Homo sapiens: one gene and its partners. The protein of the gene in region 2 purifies or fractionates together with the protein of the main gene of each other region. This does not show direct contact. Each region holds a gene or a part of one and is shown on either strand. Other genes may lie near its edges.

Evidence for each region. The genes of interacting proteins can lie anywhere in the genome.
Region 1: the proteins of PSD2 (region 2) and FARP1 purify together in Homo sapiens (affinity purification with mass spectrometry; one large-scale study listed by BioGRID and IntAct). This does not show direct contact.
Region 3: the proteins of PSD2 (region 2) and FARP2 purify together in Homo sapiens (affinity purification with mass spectrometry; one large-scale study listed by BioGRID and IntAct). This does not show direct contact.

The regions. Positions count from the first base shown.
Region 1 is NC_000013.11:98,450,594-98,454,093, forward strand, and holds part of FARP1 (FERM, ARHGEF and pleckstrin domain-containing protein 1), read left to right. Parts: 3' UTR 1-2,579; coding exon of another isoform or gene 2,580-2,616; 3' UTR 2,617-3,500. Other genes in the region: STK24 (serine/threonine-protein kinase 24 isoform a precursor), read right to left, coding at 2,580-2,616. UniProt on the Homo sapiens protein: Functions as a guanine nucleotide exchange factor for RAC1. May play a role in semaphorin signaling.
Region 2 is NC_000005.10:139,802,308-139,805,807, forward strand, and holds part of PSD2 (PH and SEC7 domain-containing protein 2), read left to right. Parts: intron 1-3,500.
Region 3 is NC_000002.12:241,485,285-241,488,784, reverse strand, and holds part of FARP2 (FERM, ARHGEF and pleckstrin domain-containing protein 2), read right to left. Parts: intron 1-3,500. UniProt on the Homo sapiens protein: Functions as a guanine nucleotide exchange factor that activates RAC1. May have relatively low activity. Plays a role in the response to class 3 semaphorins and remodeling of the actin cytoskeleton.

The sequences.
Region 1 (3,500 bases), on a different chromosome or scaffold from region 2:
GCCCTCGTCTCCCAGAGGCTGAGTACCTCCCCAGGCTGCAGGCTCTGGGCAGCTGAGCCAGGAGCAGCTCAGGGCTGGCACTGAGAGGCTACTGGTGACAGTAAACCCGTCTCAAAGGCTGGGCCTGGCTACAGACCAGCAGCAGTTGACGCTGAGGCAGGTTCCAGTGGTAGCCCTGGTGCCTGGGCTCTCTCTTAATGCAGGCCTGGAAGTGGCGACACAAAAGCCAGCTTCCTTGGCTAAGATGCCCTTAAAAACATTGGGGCTGATTTTGTGCGTCTACAGAAAGTAACAGCCCAGGAGAGAATGTACACAGAGGCGAGCTTTCTAACTCCATCAAACCCCACCTCCCCCGACAGGAAATGCTGCCAGTCAACTCTAAAAGAACCACTTGTTGCTCTACGGGGGAAGGGGCTGAGTATGATTTGTCTGGCGACTGCAGAGACTCCCCGTTCATACCAGTATTCATTAGAACCCAGTCCCTCGAGCGGCTCACCCACTGTTACTAGCATGAGACTGGCTTCAGTGCTAAAAACTGTGATGTCATTGTCCATTTGTAAATCTGAAGAACTCTGTAAATCAGAAAAGCTGCTGTCCGCCCTGGCTCACTTAAAAATCAGGTAACGGCACACCCTGGGGAACACAGACTCAATCTGTGTGATTCGCAAGGACAAAACTCATCTTTGACTTATGCCGCCGGCCTCACGTAAGGAAACAGTTCCCCACACAGAATACTCCCTGGAAACACAAAATGAAATCTTCTCCAATTTTATTATTCAACATAACATTCTTGTATGGAGTAATGAGTACAATAAGAATTAGCAACTCAGTTCTATTTCCCCAACCAAAATATATCCCTTATACAAATTAAGAGTTCAACCCAAATCCACTTCTAATAAAATACCTCAATTTTAGAGCTTAAAAACCAGACTGCACTAGCAAACCGACACAATAACCCACTCAAGCATCTGTAGCTCAGGGCTCTGTCCCCTCCCTATAGCTTAGAGGCCACTAGACCAGCAGATAGCTGAGCTACATCCCCAAGCTCACCCACTAACTTCCTTGCTTCCAAAAATCCTGTCTTAACTCCACAAGAACTGGCACACCCACGGGAGATGTCAATCATCAGCTTCAACAAACATAAAAGAATGCTTCATGTACCAGTCAACAGCTGCTGCACGAACCCTCCCACTCCAGAAACCCAGAGATTTTCCCCCTCGCCAAGCAAGGTCCCACAGCAAACCAAGAAAAACAGACACACTGGCTGCCTGCCTAGCAAGCATAGGCCCCTTCCAGAGAAGCAAAATAACTCTTAAGGTCCCCGGCAACCGCTACAGCAATCGCACAGATCAGCAACCTCCAACTGCATCATCTCGGTGAGCAAGTGCGCAAGCAGTCCAGGGCGCTGACCTGGGCACTCGGCAGCTCCAGGCCTGGGGACTTCTCCCTGGAGTCTTCCAAAGTGTCTCATCACACACACACAGCCACGAGTACACACGCACGGCCACACATACACAGCAGGTGCCCTGTCCTCTGAAGAGTCACATTTCAAGGAGTATGCAAAATAAGCGTGTTATAAAATTTATTTGTGTAAGCATTCAGACATTTTTAGGTGGGAAAGATGATATGCAGAATCCACTACAAGGTGCAACAGAAAATCGTATTGGAAAGGACGGTACATCTGGCGCAGACCAGCAGTGGCACGATTCCAAACAAATGTCAGACGAGAGCGCTTCATGGGGAGAAACTGAAAATTATAATTTAAAGCTTCATGAGGCAAGATATGTTCCAATTTAAAACACTAAGAAATAGTACCATCGATGAAAAAGGAAATCAACCTCTAGGTGTACCAAAAGGGGCGTAGGGCAAACGGGGAAAATTTGCATTTGTTGAGGTACAAATAGGAGTGTTCTGTAAGAGAGGGGCATTAATTATTAATGACAAACCCTGCAAATACAAAATAAAACCCAAATCACTGGTCACAGAATTCAAAATGTACATGTAATAAAGGCAAGGCAATAGACTCAAGTTATGGCCTGTCGAATATTTACTCCACTGACGTTATCTACAGAAGCACTTGGCCAGTTTGTACACAGTGATTCCTTATGCACGCCGAAAGGGTTTCCGTAAAAATGACATTATATACAAATCTGTACACCCATCCACCAGAGCGATTCTCCAGCTCCCAGAGGGAGTTATCAACTTAAAGCAGGATACCTGAGGTTTCATGTCTTTAGTTGCCTTATCATAATCCCAAATATACATTTCAGGGTTTGTTTTTGTTTTTAAAGACACTTTCCTGGAATATGTGCACTATGGTTAAAATTAAAAACAAAAGTAATAAAATAAAATAAAATGATCGCTGGAAGGAGCTGACCCTCCCCACCCATCTGAGAGACTTCATCTGGCTGCAGCACAGTGAAGACTGTGTGTGTCCCTGGACGGGCGCCTGGCGCTGGGGTGGCTCCCAGTGGCGCACCTCTTCGGTGGAGTCAGCGAAGGCTCTCGTTGACTTTTAAAAAAGGAGGAGGATGAAGAAGGAAAAAAGGAAAAACAAAACCCCAAATGCCAAAGGAATTTCAGTGGGATGAAGTTCCTCCACCACTTAGAGAGTATCTAGGGAAAAAGAGAGAGAGAGAAGTCAACACATGTCATTTCTCATCCCTGTGCAAAAATTCATATAGTAACCAAAATCTTAGTTTTCATAAGAAATTCCAAGTCATACAAAAATAAGTGGAGCAAATATCAATGTGTAAGTCTAATTTTAAAAGAATGCATATAAAGACTGAGAAGATCATGATTCTTACACAAAAACTCCAGAGCATGTCACCAAAAACCAAGAATGGGTTCAGCCTCCCTGGAGAGATGTGAATAAAACGGGAAATCATATCCCTTTTACTTACGATCAATTGTCAAAAAGTGAACATTGATCCATACATGATGACACAGTAAGATTCCAGGGATGCATATGCATTCCCGATGTGAGGGCAGGAAACCCATTTTGGCCATAAAAATAGTGATGCAGTCCAAGAATCTATTTCCTAGAACTGCTTCCGAAATATGGTCCAAAGCAGGAACAACGTGTCTGCACAAAGATGTCTCTCGGGATTTTCGTAATTACACTAATTTGGAAACAACTCTGATGCCCAACAGTACAGAATCAGTTAAGTAAATTATACAAACTGAAATAACAGACTAAAAATGGTAATTATCTGTATTTACATATATATATTAAAGCAATATTAAAAATATGTACAAGTTTAAAAGTACATACAAAATTACAGATTGGGCATCCCTTATCTGAAATGCTTCTGGCTTTGGATCTGGGAATATCCGCATTATACTTACCAGTGTGCAGCCCCAAATCCGAAATCTGACATGCCCCAGAGAGCAGTTCCTTTGAGCCCCATGCTGGCGCTCAAAAGTTTCAGATTGGGGATTTGGGATATTCAGCCTGTATATGTGCACTATATAAGTATATTTACATGAACAACTTCTGT
Region 2 (3,500 bases):
AGGAAGCTTCTTGGTTTCTGTCTCTTGGCTGTTGAAGCAGACTGTGGGGAGCTACTCAGAGGTGGAGCTCTCTCAGGTCTGCCTCTGCCCAGGTGTTGTATCCGAGGCTGGGCTGGTTGGGAGGATTTGCACTTGGTCAGTCCATTGTAGCTCTCAGGATTCAACTCTCAACCCACAGGCTCATGTTAGCCTGTGGGCTCCATGAGCCTGTGGGTTGAAGCAGTGTGAGTCCAGTGCCCTCCGAAGTTGGAGGAAGGTGGCCCAGTGGTCAGTCTGGCTGTGAACTCTCTTGACCAAGACAGCTTAGTCCTTTGTGGTTCCTGATAACTGAGGGTTCACCCCGTAGGGAAGTCAGTTGGGCATAGAGTCACCAGCTGTAAACATGATTTGAAATTTGACAGCAGACTTTGTGGATTTCATTAGTGTTAAGGGCTCTTCAACCAGCATGCAGATGTACGCAAATGCTAAGCAAATGAGGGTGCCAATTGGCTGGGGGGTTGGGGAGAGAAGCAAGCTGGGAGATGTCTAGGAATGACCTTTGTGGAGCAAGCTCCAAGGGCCCCTGAGAATCCCAGCAGAGCACATGCAGGATAAGATGCAAATGTGCATGCAGCCCCGGGGACTTCTGCCTGCCTGACCATGAGAACATGAGCCCAAGGCAAGGGCTGGTTCCCTGATGGCCACACTGAGAGAAGGAAAGCAGGTGGGGGCTGGTTATCACTCCAAACAGGCATTACCTGAAAGGGATGGGCATCTTTAAAGAGGGCGTAGGTTCTTGGCCCTTGCCCTACACTTGTGTGCCCTGAGATGGAAAGATAGGAGTGAGCCTGGCCTTGGGTGAGGGTGTTGGGAGGGCAGGACAGTAGGGACCTCAGCTGCCTTGGGAAAGGGAGGGGATGCCCTCTCTGGCCCCCCTCCTGGCCCCACGGGAGTCTTTGATTTGCCTCTACCCTCTAGCTGGGCTTCTGAAGCCCCTGCCTCAGAACTTGCTCTGACAGCTGCCAAGGACGCATATCCAATGGGTGCTGGCTGAGTGGCCTGTGCTGTGTGCTGCTGTCCTGGGCATGGCACCCCTGGGGGTAGCCAGCTTGGTTCCTTGCAGCCCCCAGAAGGTTTTGGGAGGCAGCAGCCCTCCCTTGAGCACTGAACACATGCCATCTCCTTTAGTCCTCACAGGTGCCTTGAGAAGACAAATGCTCTTGGCACCCCCCATTTATGGAGGAGGACACCGAGCTCAGATAGACAGGCAGTTTTCCTGAAGTCACACAGCTTGTGGCTAGCAGAGCTTGGATTTGGAGCCAGGTCTTTCTGAGCACACAGGAAAGGGCACTGACCCACTCTCCCGGACTGTCCCAGTCTGAGGCCCTTGCAGCACAAGGCGGTCCAAGCTGGGAAGACCAAGTGGGTTAAGAGGGTTTAGGGTCACTTTGGGATGTGGAATCCGGGAAGTTCCCTAGGCTCCTGGGTGGGCGTCCCTTCCAAATTATCCTGGGCATCTCCCTGGGCAGTTGGGATGTGGAGGAGGCTGGCCTGGGCTTAGGGAGGGGGCCTGGAGCTCTTGGAGGTGGGAAGATCCTTAACTCCAGGCCCCTTGGTTGGCAGAGGCTACAAGGGAGCATGGTTAGGGGGGCCCAACTGAGGGCTTCCTGGCAGCACCCTACTGCCCATGCTGCCAGTGGCCTAGCAGGTCCTGTGGAGCCCTGGAGCACTCCAGGCCTGGCCATCCTAGGCCCCATTGCGGTGTGGGCATCGCTGTTCAGGGTCTGTTTTGACACTCCCTACATGCCACATGTTTGCATTGATCATCTCTTTTAAGTGTCTGTGTGTGTCTTGTGTGTTCATGTGTGTTCACATGTGTTTGTGTGTCTGAAGATCCTAGCCCATGTGCTAAAATCTGGGTGATCTAGGGAATCTTGGGTTGGGATTTTGGGGAAGAGTAGTGAACCAGTGGGGGTGTTCAGGGTGGGTTTCCAGGGGGCAGAGAATAGGTCCAAGAAAGATTTCTTTGCCAAGTAACCCTCATGGAGCTCTCTCCAAGTATCCAATGTTGGTTGGCAGGTCCTTGGAGACTGTCCAGATTAGGGTATGGAATCAAGGATGGATAGAGGGCTTTGAGCCTTTCCAGATATACTCTAAATGTTGCACACATTTGTGAGATTTCCAGGGCAGGATCTTCCATCAAGTGCACAAAGAGGTCCAGGACTTGGAACTGGTTAGGTATCAATGGTGCACGTGGGGACATGAGGTCAGAGAGGGGTTTTTTTGTGCCCAACTTCCCCTAGCCCACTGGAAGCAAAACGTGAGGGTCCTGGTGCTCCTAGATTTGCTTCCCTGGGTCAGCTGTGGTCTCAGCCTTGCCACCACACTGACATTCCAGAACAATTTTCTCTGATCCCAGTCCCTTCTGCATACCCAGGATGGTTTTGACCCTGGATGCCCGATGATGTAGATCTCGCTGCCCTTAACCTTGCCCATAGGCCTGCCAGTGCCTTGTCCACCTTACCAGGCAAATTAGGGGGATTGCCTCATGAGCGGCTGCCCAGTTCCCTCTGTGTGTGTGCGTGTGTGTGTGTCTGTGTGCATGTGTGTGTGCGTGCGTGTGTGCATGTCTGTGAACGTGTGTGTGCATGTGTCTGCACGTGTGCGTGTGTATGTGTGCGTGTGTGCGTGCGTGTGTGCATGTGTGTGTCTCTGTGTGTGTGTGAGTGTGTGCGTGTGTGTGTATTGTGCATGTGTGTGCGCATGTGTGTGTGCACGTGCGCGTGTGTCTGGGCATGTGTACATGTGTGCATGTGCCTACCCATACCTGTATTGTATGTCTGCTGTCAGGTCCTGCACCCATGCACTTGCCCCTGTGTCTTATAGAGCATGCTGGCCTCTGGAGCCCTCCCTGGTGGGCCCCACCTCCAGCCCTGCCCTTGGGTTTCCCACAGTCCCTGGCTTGGATCCCACCATAAAAGGGACCGTAAGATTATTTCTTTGACAATCTAGCATTCCATCAGAATCTCAGCCTTGCTGCTTTCCAGCTTTGTGACTCCGAGCAGTTCCTCAATCTCTCTTAGCCTCTGCCACAAATAGGCATGATGATAATCCCTGTTATTCATCTAACAAATACTTCTAAAGGCCTGCTGTGTGCCAAGCATTGCACTGGACTCTGGGGACACAGCCGTGAACATGACATAGTCCCCACCCTCACTGAACTTACATCCTAGTACAGAGATAGGCAGGGAATCAGTAAACACATAGAAAAGGGAGCTTCAGTTCTACTGAGTGCTATGGTGCTCCATCACTCCATGATGCAGTGCCAGGGGTCAGAGAGGGCCTTTCTCAGGAGGCAGTGTTGGAGTTGAGCCCTGAGTGGCAGAAGAAGCTCTTTTAAAGATCTAGGGAAAGAGCATTCTAGGCCACGGGTATAGCTGGTGCAAAGGCCCTGAGGTGGGAATGAACTCAGGGAGCGGAAAGAAGGCCACTGTGGCTGATGTGGGAGAGCATGGGGACAT
Region 3 (3,500 bases), on a different chromosome or scaffold from region 2:
TGAGATCAGTGAGAAAATGAAGGATTCAACAAATAATGGGGAGAAATGTTACATCTCAATCTAATATCTATCAAAACAAATTCTAGGCCAGGCACGGTGGCTCACACCTGTAATCCCAGCACTTTGGGAGGCCGAGGCGGGCGGATCACAAGGTCAGGAGATCGAGACCATCCTGGCTAACACGGTGAAACCCCGTCTCTACTAAAAATACAAAAAATTAGCCACCTGTAGTCCCAGCTACTTGGGAGGCTGAGGCAGGAGAATGGTGTGAACCCAGGAGGCGGAGTTTGCAGTGAGCCGAGATCGTGCCTGGGCACTCCAGCCTGGGACACAGAGCAAGACTCCATCTAAAAAAAAAAAAAAAAAAACCAAAAAAGTAAAAAAACAAATTCTAGGGAGATTAATTAAATGAGAAAACTGAAACCATTAAAAGGTGCCAATATAATATTGGCATGGGGAAGAACTTCCTGAGCCCATACTAAGGATAGAAACCCTCAAGGAAAAGACAGCCAGAGCTGACCCTGATAGGCCCTGATTTTTCAACTTTATGATGGTGTGAAAGTGATAAGCATTCAGTAGAAACGGAACTTCAAGTGCCCATACGACCATTCTGTTTTTCACTTCCAGTTTGGTATTCAACAAATTATGTGAGATATTCAACACTTTGTTATAAAATAGGCTTCATATTAGATGATTTTGCCCAACTGTAAGCTAATGTATGTTCTGAGCACATTTAGAGTAGGCTAGGCTGGCTCACGCCTGTAATCCCAGCACTTTGGGAGGCCGAGGCGGGTGGATCACGAGGTCAGGAGATCGAGACCATCCTGCCTAACACGGTGAAACCCCGTCTCTACTAAAAAATACAAAAAATTAGCCAGGCGTGGTGGCGGGCGCCTGTAGTCCCAGCTACTCAGGAAGCTGAGGTAGGAGAATGGCGTGAACCCGGGAGGTGGAGCTTGCAGAGAGCCAAGATGGCACCACTGCACTCCAGCCTGGGCGACAGAGCGATTCCATCTCAAAAAAAAAAAAAAAAAAAAAGAGTAGGCTAGGCTAAGCTATGACATCAGAGAGGTTAAGTGTATTAAATGCATTTTCTTTTCTTTCTTTTTTTTTTTTTTGAGAGGGAGTCTTGTTCTGTCACCCAGGCTGGAGTGCAGTGGTGTGATCTCGGCTCAGTGCAACCTCCGCCTCCCAGGTTCAAGTGATTCTTGTGCTTAGCCTCCCGAGTAGTTGGGACTACAGGTGCCCACCACCACGCCTGGCTAATTTTTGTATTTTTAGTAGAGACAGGGTTTCGCCCTGTTGGCCAGGCTGGTCTTAAACTCCTGACCTTAGGTGATTCACCCACCTCAGCCTCCCAAAGTGCTGGGATTACAGACGTGAGCCACCGTGCCCTGTTAAATGCATTTTTGACTATACTATTTTCCTCTTACAATGGGTTTATCAGGGCATAGCCCCATCATAAGTTGAGGAGTGTCTGTTTCAATTCACACCTTCAACAAGCATTTGCTGGGTTCCCTATATGTGCCAGATGCCATTCTAGAGTAAGAGAAACAGAACCCATCAAGATGGAGTTTAAATTCTACAAGGTAAAACTAAATTGTAGGCAAAGTAAAAAGCAGTTACTGAGAAAATAATTTGTGACTTAATAGTGTTGGTGAGCATTATCATATAAACATTTCACTAATGTGTACAAAAAACTCACAGACCAATGGAGACCAGAGTGACCAGCACGCTGAGTGATTCCTGAGAGGAAAAGCATGGAATGCCAGGACACAGGGGCCAGGCTGGCCTCACCGACAGTCCGCAGGGATGCAAAGTGAAATGATGGGGCTGCTCGATGGGGCTGCTTACCTTACCCACTTGGGAAGAGTAAGAGAGACAGGTGCCTAGCACTTTCCATGGTGGAGGGAAAGATGCATGTTTAGACCTAGCTCCTGCAGGTGGGAAGGTCAGCTGGCGCAGGTGCTCCAACAGCAATTTAGCAGGAGTGCCCAAGGCCGTAAACACCTTTGCTCAGACAAATCTACATTTTGGAATTGATCTGAAGGACATAATTAAGGATGTGCAGAAAGACAGAGATCCAACAATGTTACAGTCCTCAACAACCAGCCACAGCCAAGCGTCCAGTGACAGGTGACTAGTTAAGTGAACTGGGGCTGCCATGAAAGGAAAGGAAAACCAGTGTCCTGACAAAACAGCCCGTGGGTGATGGCAACCATGCAGCAGATGCCTGCAGCCATCACTGCTGAGTGGGTACGATGATAGAGTTCTTTTTCTTGTTTCTTTTCTCTGTGTTTTTTTTTTTTTTTTTTTTTTTTTTGAGACGAGGTCTCACTCTGTCACTGGGGCTGGAGTGCAGTGGTACGATCACGGCTCACTACAGCCTTGACCTCCTGGGCTTAAGTGATTCTCCCATCTCAGCCTCCCAAGTAGCTGGGACTACAGGCACACACCACTTTTGCTCAGCTAATTAAAAAAAAAAAAAAAAAAAAAAGATTTTTGGAGATTTGGCTTCGCCATGTTCCCCAGGCAGGTCTCAAACTCTCAGCTTCAAGCGATCCTACCATCTTGACCTCCTAAAGTGCTGGCATTACAGGCGTGAGCCACAGCAACTGGCCAGTGATGAGTGATTTCTGTCTTATACTTTCAATTATTTTTTTCTATAATAAAGGTGTAATTTTTAAAAGTATACTTTAAAACAAATGGGGTCTGCTTCCGGTGGTGGCAGATGAGCTAATTCAAACTGACCTCTTCTTGCTGAGGGCCTGAGAAGTGGAATTAAATTTTACAAACACCTGCCTGAGGGTTTTGGCGCTCATTGTCAGGAGGAGGCAGTGCAGAGGGATAAGACCCTTGAAGAAAGAACAGGGAAAGAGGACCCCAGGGAGGGAGGACCCCACTGGGGGAGGAAGGACTCCAGGGAGGGAGGACCCCAGGGAGAGAGGATCTCAGGGAAGGAGGACCCTACTGGGGGAGGGCCCTGGGGGAGGAAGACCATGGGGAGGGAAAATCCCAGGGAGGGAGGACCACAGGGAGCAAAGGAGGACCCCAGGAAGGGAAGATCCTAGGGAAGGAGGACCCCAGGGAGGGAGATCCCAGGAAGGGAAGATCACAGGGAGTGAGGGAGGACCTCAGGGAGGGAGGACTCCAGGGAGGGAATATCCCAGGGAGAGAGGACTACAGGGAGCAAGGGAGGACTCCAGGAAGGGAAGATCCTAGGGAAGGAGGACCCCAGGGAGGGAAGATCCCAGGAAGGGGAGATCACAGGGAGTGAGGGAGGACCTCAGGGAGGGAGGGAGAAGCCGATGGAGGGAAGATCCCAGGGAGGGAGGGAGGACTCTAGGAAGGGAAGATCCTAGGAAAGGAGGATCCCAGGGAGGGAGGACCACAGGGAGGGAAGATGCCAGAGAGGGAGGGAAGATCCTAGGAAGGGAAGATCCCAGGGAATGAGGGAAGATCCCAGGAAGGGAAGATCCCAGGGAGGGAGGGAGGACTCT